2 linked regions of the Homo sapiens genome follow. The protein of the gene in region 2 interacts with the protein of the main gene of each other region in a pairwise test. Each region holds a gene or a part of one and is shown on either strand. Other genes may lie near its edges.

Evidence for each region. The genes of interacting proteins can lie anywhere in the genome.
Region 1: the proteins of PREX1 (region 2) and RICTOR interact in binary tests that used the Homo sapiens proteins (3 or more experiments, as listed by UniProt).

What each region holds. Positions count from the first base shown.
Region 1 is NC_000005.10:38,948,794-38,952,544, forward strand, and holds part of RICTOR (rapamycin-insensitive companion of mTOR), read right to left. Parts: intron 3,633-3,751; coding exon 3,403-3,632; intron 1,928-3,402; coding exon 919-1,927; intron 635-918; coding exon of another isoform or gene 563-634; intron 1-562. UniProt on the Homo sapiens protein: Component of the mechanistic target of rapamycin complex 2 (mTORC2), which transduces signals from growth factors to pathways involved in proliferation, cytoskeletal organization, lipogenesis and anabolic output.
Region 2 is NC_000020.11:48,825,989-48,829,739, forward strand, and holds the start of PREX1 (phosphatidylinositol 3,4,5-trisphosphate-dependent Rac exchanger 1 protein), read right to left. Parts: upstream 2,012-3,751; 5' UTR 1,873-2,011; coding exon 1,654-1,872; intron 1-1,653.

The sequences.
Region 1 (3,751 bases), on a different chromosome or scaffold from region 2:
CAATTCATTGTCTGCTACCAAGAAACCCTCTATTAAATGTGTTAAGCATTATTGAAACAAAACTGCTTAATGTTATTAAGAATAATGTAAGGGCTAGATGGATTACATTAAATAACTACCAATGATGATGATAAATAGCTAACTTTTATTGAGTGCTTAATATGTGCTAAAGTATTCTAACATATATTGTTGACATATAAGTACCTGACATATATTAATCCACTTAAATAAATGTAAATGAATAATTTAAAACTAAGGAAAGTTGTTTAGAAGCATTTGGTCCAACCACAAAAATTATAGGTACAAAATTTTTTTGCAGCAAATACTGTGTATCTTTTAAAAGTAAAATCTAAACTGTTCACTTTGACTAGCTTGATATAATCTAAATATGGTATAGAAATCCCTGCTGAGTCATGAGGACCAAGTATTTCATTTAGTGTTTATTAGGTTCCTATTTAATAATCACAGCTACTTAAAGTGAAAATAATTTCACTGAAATTTTCATTTATCTTTTTAAAAAAATAATAAAGAGGTCAACTTTTGGAGCCTTAAATTGACCTACCTGAAAAGGTTGTTTGTTATTGTAGGTCTTAAGCTCCTGATTCCCCCGACATGCTTCTTTTTAAAATCGATCCTTGCAGAAGCGAGAAATAAATAAAAAAAAGCTTGTGACTTGTATGTCCTTTGCAAAGCATGTATGTTTATTTTCAGGGCCTATAGGATTTTCTTCCCCCCTCGCAGCTGCAAGAATCCATTTCAAGTCATATCGGGTAACAAGGAGCTTATAGCCTACCATAGTAAACAATTATAATAGGTCAGTGATGAGGCTCACATAGTGTAAAACCTGGCTAACATTTTGTATTTAAATTTGTTAAAATGCAACCATTATTGGTCACTTCTAAACATATATTTGCTTACCTGCTTGGTGTTAATCTGGACTCAAAACTGTTGGCCTTCATGGTGATGGTATCAGTAAATAGCACATCTTTTGCTGGAGATGCCAAAGCTTCAGAGTGAGATAAGGATGGATGCATTCTTTGTTGCTGTAGTCTTTTCAGTGTAGCATAGCCAAAAGCATCTCTAGAACTTGTGTAACTAAAGTTACAATCTGCTAGACTTTTAATTGTAGCAATAGAGGGTGCTTTAAGGGACTGTGCTCTTCTAGGAAGCGTATGAGAAGAACCTGGAGGCACCAGGGACACCGAATTTGATTTGGAGAGAGACAGATGGTTAGACTGTGGCGTCAAATAGTGGCTTGTCTTAATAGTTTTAGTACTTACCACAGTACTCATGCTTCCACAGTCTGTGTCCATAGTTGTAGCATCTACACCTACTGTCTCTCGTGAAGGACTTGAGCTCATTGAACTTATGCCACTTGTTGTAGTGTCTGTATTGAAACTTTGGCTACGTATCTTCATATGTGAGCTCGTTGAACTTTCTACTACTAACCTCTCTCGGCTTGTATTTTCTCTGTGATTCTCTGTACCAAAATTCTTGGTGAATTTTAAGTCATTTTCTCCAATGCTTGGTGTACTACCAGTGTCTTCAATGTGCTTATTCCCCATAAATGAAGTCTCTAATTGTAATGTTTTCTGTACAGTGGATATGGGTGTAAAATCATCACTATGATTAAAATCAACACTGGGCTCCGTAAGTGTTCTGATTCGCCTGTTGCTTGTCTTACTTTCAGATGATAATTTCCCTCCTTTTGGATCACTGCTACTACGATGTTTTTTGTTAGGCAAAGTAAGCGAATTTAAGATACGATTCTTCACAAGTTTACTAGAAGCAAAGAAAGGGAATGAATTTTTATCCTTTATGGGTCCAGATCGGTCATAAAATGTTGGCTCTGTATCTTCATTGATATCAAGGAAAAATGTGCTAGTAGAGCTGCTGCCAAACCGGTCATCCTCCAATATGAACATACCTATGATTGAAGGATCAATTAATAAAAACACATATAAAATGACAAATTCATGATAACTATTAGTGACATCACATTTCAGGAAATTTTTTTTTAGTCATCTAGAGGAAAAAATTTAAAAATAAACGGTTAAACCATTCAGCTACTTGAAAATATCTTTCTTGAAACCCAGAGTTTGGACTTGAATAAAATGTAAAATTATGTAATTTATGAGAATCTCCTGTTATTTCCAAAGAAAAATTATTATAAGACCCACTATGGCACAGGTTACATGAAGTTTCTTTTGATTCTCCAAATATTCAGGATGAAATTAAAGGGAAAAAGGAGACTTGGCCATGGATGCTTACTCAATTACTACAGATTCCTAGTGGTTCTTCTTTAAATTACTATAAGCAGGAGAAATTCACCTTGTAAGAAATGAATTCCCAATCTTAAAATATACTTACAGAGAACCAAGTGGTAACATTATAAATTCATGTTTAAATTATGTTTATTTCTCATTTTACCTTAGATACTAAGAAACTCATTAAATTTAGTGCCCAATTCTACTAGAAGACGCAACCCAAGTGAGTGCCTAATGACATCTATACGATTTTTCTTTTATTAACTTTTCTGTTGAATAATTACAAATACTTCAAATATATTTTCAAAGAAGGTAAAAGAAAATCCTAAGTGAATTTGCATACTGCATTACCATTTCTATATTTTGTCAATTCTAAGATGCACACTTTTCACATTTAATCCCTTCTATTTTCACACAGAATCTGATTCTAAAATCAATATGCATCTTGTAGTATGTCCTAGTTTAATAGGCAGCACTTCTTCTTTCTTCTTCTTTTGTGGTACATAAAATATTGGCATATTTCATAATTCATGGCATCTCAGATTTGGTGAAATACACAGTCTGATAAAGCTGACACTATCTTCTTAAAAGGAAGAACCATGCCTTAAATTTTGTACACCTAACACCACTTAGCACAGGACTTAAAACCACAAATCATTTTATATATAACTATTTTTGTTACTCTATTAACAATTTCACTATTTTAAAATTTAGTGCTTCTCTCAAAAATGAAGATGTGAATATAATATCAGTTAAAAATATATTCTGGCTCAACAATCTCAGTATCTGAAAAATGAGTAAAAAGATTAAATAAAGAAGGTAGACAAATAAATACTTGTTATATTTGTTTCTTTTCTGTCAAAAAAAGGAGGACTGGTTCTTCTGGCACATGGCTTATTACATAACTTTGTAGGAATCCTCAAAAGCTACTTAGAATATAAGGAGAGAGAAAAATGTAAGCTGGTGATTATACTCTTTGTTATGAAAATATACACATTCTCCAAGAGGCTATTATTGCCAAATAATTATCTTAGACAAAAGCAAATTACAAATGTAACAAATACATTTAAATTCTAAAATTCAAATATAAATGTTAACATTGGCTAACTTTATATGAACCTGTCAGGATACTCACTCGATGGCACAGATTCACTTTCACTATTATGTCTAGAGCTGGTTGACTCCGAGTTCAAACTTAGAGTGCTTGGGATAGATGAAAGTTCATTACAGAGTTGTTCCACATCATCTGGAACCACTGGCCACAGATGTTTGCGACTATGCCTCACAGCATCCCAGTTGTGACATTTTAGAATATCACAGCCTTGTTTGGTTTTAGCTATGAGCCCAAGTACATATACACAGGTCCTGTATATAAAAGATGCAGTAAAAACAGTTATAATTCCAAGCTGAGATTTCTTAAAGCCACCACAGATTAATTTGCTATACATACTTTGAACTTTCTCTAAAACCCACCAAAATGGTTG
Region 2 (3,751 bases):
CCCACATCCCCCTGCCCCCAGTACATCTCCTTTCACAGGCAGAAGGGCTCTAGTCTAAGGCTGTCTCCTCCCTGAGCTGGAACTCTGATCTCACACAGCCTCAGCTGCACCCCTAAGCCATGAGGAGCCCCAGAGGACCCCAGAGTCTCCCTCTTTCTCCCAAAGACTAGGAGCTACAAAGCCTGGCTCTAGGGTCTTTGAAAGAGCCACCCCCACACCAGCCCTTCCTGAACCAGGATTAAAAGACTTCCTAGAGCAGAGAAGGGGAGTAAATGAGGCCCCAGCAGGAGGCATGGAGATTAAAGACTTTAGAGTCTCCTAACTTCCATCCAAGGCTCTGCCCCGTCCCACCCCCTCCACCCGCTGGCCACTTTTCTCACTTCCTAGGAGAGTAGGGAAGTGGCCCCTTCCTCCCTCTCACAGAAAAAAAGCAAAAGAAAAATGCAGCATAGAATAGGGGTTTAGAACACCAGCTGGGATAGTCCCGGTTCAAAGCCCAGTACCCCCACTTAATCAGCTGTGCGATCCCAGACAAGCTACCCGGCCCCTCTGGAGCTAAACTTTCCCAATCTTAAAAACGGAGGAGGCAGGACCCAGTAGCTCACGCCTGTAATCCCTGCACTTTGGAGGCCGAGGTCGGCGGATCACTTGAGGCCAGGAGTCCAAGACCAGCATGGCCAACATGGTGAAATCCCCTCTCTGATAAAAATACAAAAATTAGTCGGCCGTGGTGGCTGGCGCGTGCCTGTAATCCCAGCTACTCGGGAGGCTGAGGCAAGAGAATTGCTTGAACCCGGGAGGCGGAGGTTGCAGTGAACCGAGATTGCGCCACTGTACTCCAGCCTGGGTGACTGAGGGAGACTCCGTCTCAAAAAAAAATTTTTTTAATTAAAAATGGGGGAAATACTCGTCCCTACTTCATAGACCGCCTGTGAAGGTTAAACCTGCTAATTAATGACACATGTAAGGTGTCTGGCACATAGTAAGTGGTCGGTTGTTATTTTACAAAGTCTGAGGCCGTGGTTTTGCACTTGGAGATGGGGAGTTGGTGGGGGTGGATGCAGTTAGGGAGCCTGGACTGCCGAGTTTTGAGTTCGAAACCCACTCTCCCCGAACTCCAGCAAAAACCTGTGCATGGGGGATTCTACCCTGGGGTTCTGTCAATCCCCGCCCCTCCTCTGAGCTTCAGGTTTTATCCTACTCCATCAACGCGCAGGGACGTTGGGCTCTGGGGCTCCTACGGTATGTCCTAGATGAGTGGTGCACCGGGCGCGTAGTTATTCCTGGGAAAAAGACGCAGGAGCGCCAGCTCCCGGCGCCGCCGGGGTCCCCAAGCCCCTGCATCGCGGATGTAACTAATTTTAAAACTATTTGAAAGGCGGGGACGGGGAAGAAAAGACAAAAGGGCAGCGCGCGCCGCGGGGAAGTGGAGTGCGGGAGAGCCCCGGTCGGAGCAGGACCGTGCGCCGGCCAGGGAGGGAGGCGACGCGACAGCTCTGGAGGAGCTCGGATCCCCCCCGCTTTCCGCGCGCCCTGCGGGGCGCCCCCGAGGCAATTCTCCACCCACGGGGACCACGGCCACAGGTTGTGGGGACCGCAGCGGGGCGAGCGGCTGGAGGGAAAGCTGTCCCCAAGCTCCCGAGCGACACTCACCGACTGCAAGAAGCGCAAGGTGCCCACGTAGTCCCTCTCGGTGCCCAAGATCTCGTTGAGGACGCAGAGGCGGAGGCGCAGCTGGCGCTCGGACTCCCGGGCGGCCGCGCACGGGCCGGGGCCGGAGCTGGGCGCCGCGGCGCCAGGGGCCCGGGGGTCCGGGTGGGCGCAGTCCCCGGCCCCGTCGCCGCCGGGCTCGCTGCCGCTGGGCGCCTCCATTCTAGCGCGGCCGCGCGGCGCCGGCTCCTTCCGTCGCGCCGAGCGGCAACTCAGGCGTCCAGGCGCCCCATCCCGGACGGGGCGCGCCGGCGGGCCGGGCTCAGCGGCGGGCCGGGCTCCCGGCGCGGCGGGCGGGACTGGGGGCCGGGCGGCTGGGCCGGGGGCGGAGGCAGCGCGCGGGGGCCGGGCGAGGGGCGGGAGGGGGCGGCCCTCGGGGCTCCCAGACGGCTGGCCCCCCGCCCCCGCGCCAGGGACCGTCTGCCAAGTGCCACGCCGCGCTCGGCCGCAGAGGCGCTCTGCGCGTGCACGGGGCCCCTGGGGACGCGGCGCGGCGCTCGGCGCCTCCGTCGGAAGCTCGGGGGTCGGGCGGGAGCCTCCGGAAGGGCCCCGCGGAGCCGGGAGTCCGAGGCCGCGCGCACGCCGAACCGAGCGTACCAACTCCGCGCCCGGACGCGTGGCGCCCCCCCAACCCGCAGTCACCGCGGGCTACGCCACTCCCACCCGGCACACGCGACACCCGCCGCGCGCAGGCTCCTGCTTGCAGGTCCGGCCGCTGCTCGGGCCAAGTAAACACCGGGCTGGGAAAGCTCGCTGCGGAGCCGCTCGGGGGCAAGCCAGCCCCGCCACGCGCGCCTCCGCGGCCCCGGGAAGTCAGGGGCGACCGCTGCCTGGGCAGTGACGGCCCCTCTCTGGGCAGTGACGGCCCCTCCCGGGAACGCCGGGCCCTCGCGGTGCCCTCGGTGCTACCACGACCTTGGGAAGGAACATGCGTGGCGCGCGCTCGCTCTCACTTTTCTCTTTCCCGTTTCCTTTCCCATCTCTCTCTTTCCTTCCTTCCTTTTCTTTCTGAACTTCTTTGCCCCCTGACCCTGCCCTTTCCACCTTTCCCAGAAGAAATTATTACCTGCTCTTGAGTTATTGATCAAGTGGCAGGTACCCTGCCTGCTCCCCCTTCCATCCACCCACCCCATGGGATAAGGCCTTGGGAAACCCAGCTTCTTGTCAGGTTGCTCTGGGCAATGTTGATCATCACCCGCCTTATCGGAAGGTATGGAGAGGGGAGGAAGTTCTGGGGCCTAGAGTCAGCTGCTCAGGTTCAAATCCTAGCTCCCCACTTGCTGGCCGGGTGGCCTTGGGCTGGTTTCCTTGCTTCAAGATCCTCAGTGTTTTCATCAGTATAACGGGAACGATCATGGTACCTAGCTCCAAGGTCCTCCCCGGGGTTCCATGGGAAGTACTTAGCACCTAGAAAGTTCTCTGTAAATGTTTGTTCTTACTATTATTGCATGTGTGAAGCCCAACACCTAGAAAGTTCTCTGTAAATGTTTGTTCTTACTATTATTGCATGTGTGAACGGCCCTCTAAGCCTGGCCCCACTCTCAAATGGCCCATACAATCCCTAATCACCCGTGTTTCCGGACCAGAGATTGTATCGTCTCTGCAGGGGATAAAGTGATCCACATAGTATCCGCCTCTAGACTGTAGTCATTTTATGGACAGAAACATTGCTTATTTATTCCTGTTCCAAAAGCCTAGGATTTTCCTCCCATTGGCCTCTCAATACTGTAAGTGCCTAAGGACACAGGGAGAGAATGGGGTGGCTTCTGCCCTCTCTGACTTCTTTCTTTGGGATCATGGGCAAGGTAGCATTTGATCTGGGCCTTGGGCTGAGTGAAGTTCCCCTGGGCAGGGAGTAAAGGACATGAGATAGGTGAGCCTGTCACGCTTGGGTAGTGGAGTCAATTGTGTCCAAAGGTAGCTGGTTTTTTATTTATATTTTTATTCCTAATAAAGGCCTCTGGAGTATCTCTGCTTTGTGACTTTAAACTGTTCACGGTACCTTTCTGAGCCTCCGTTTCCTCATCTTTAAATTAATTCT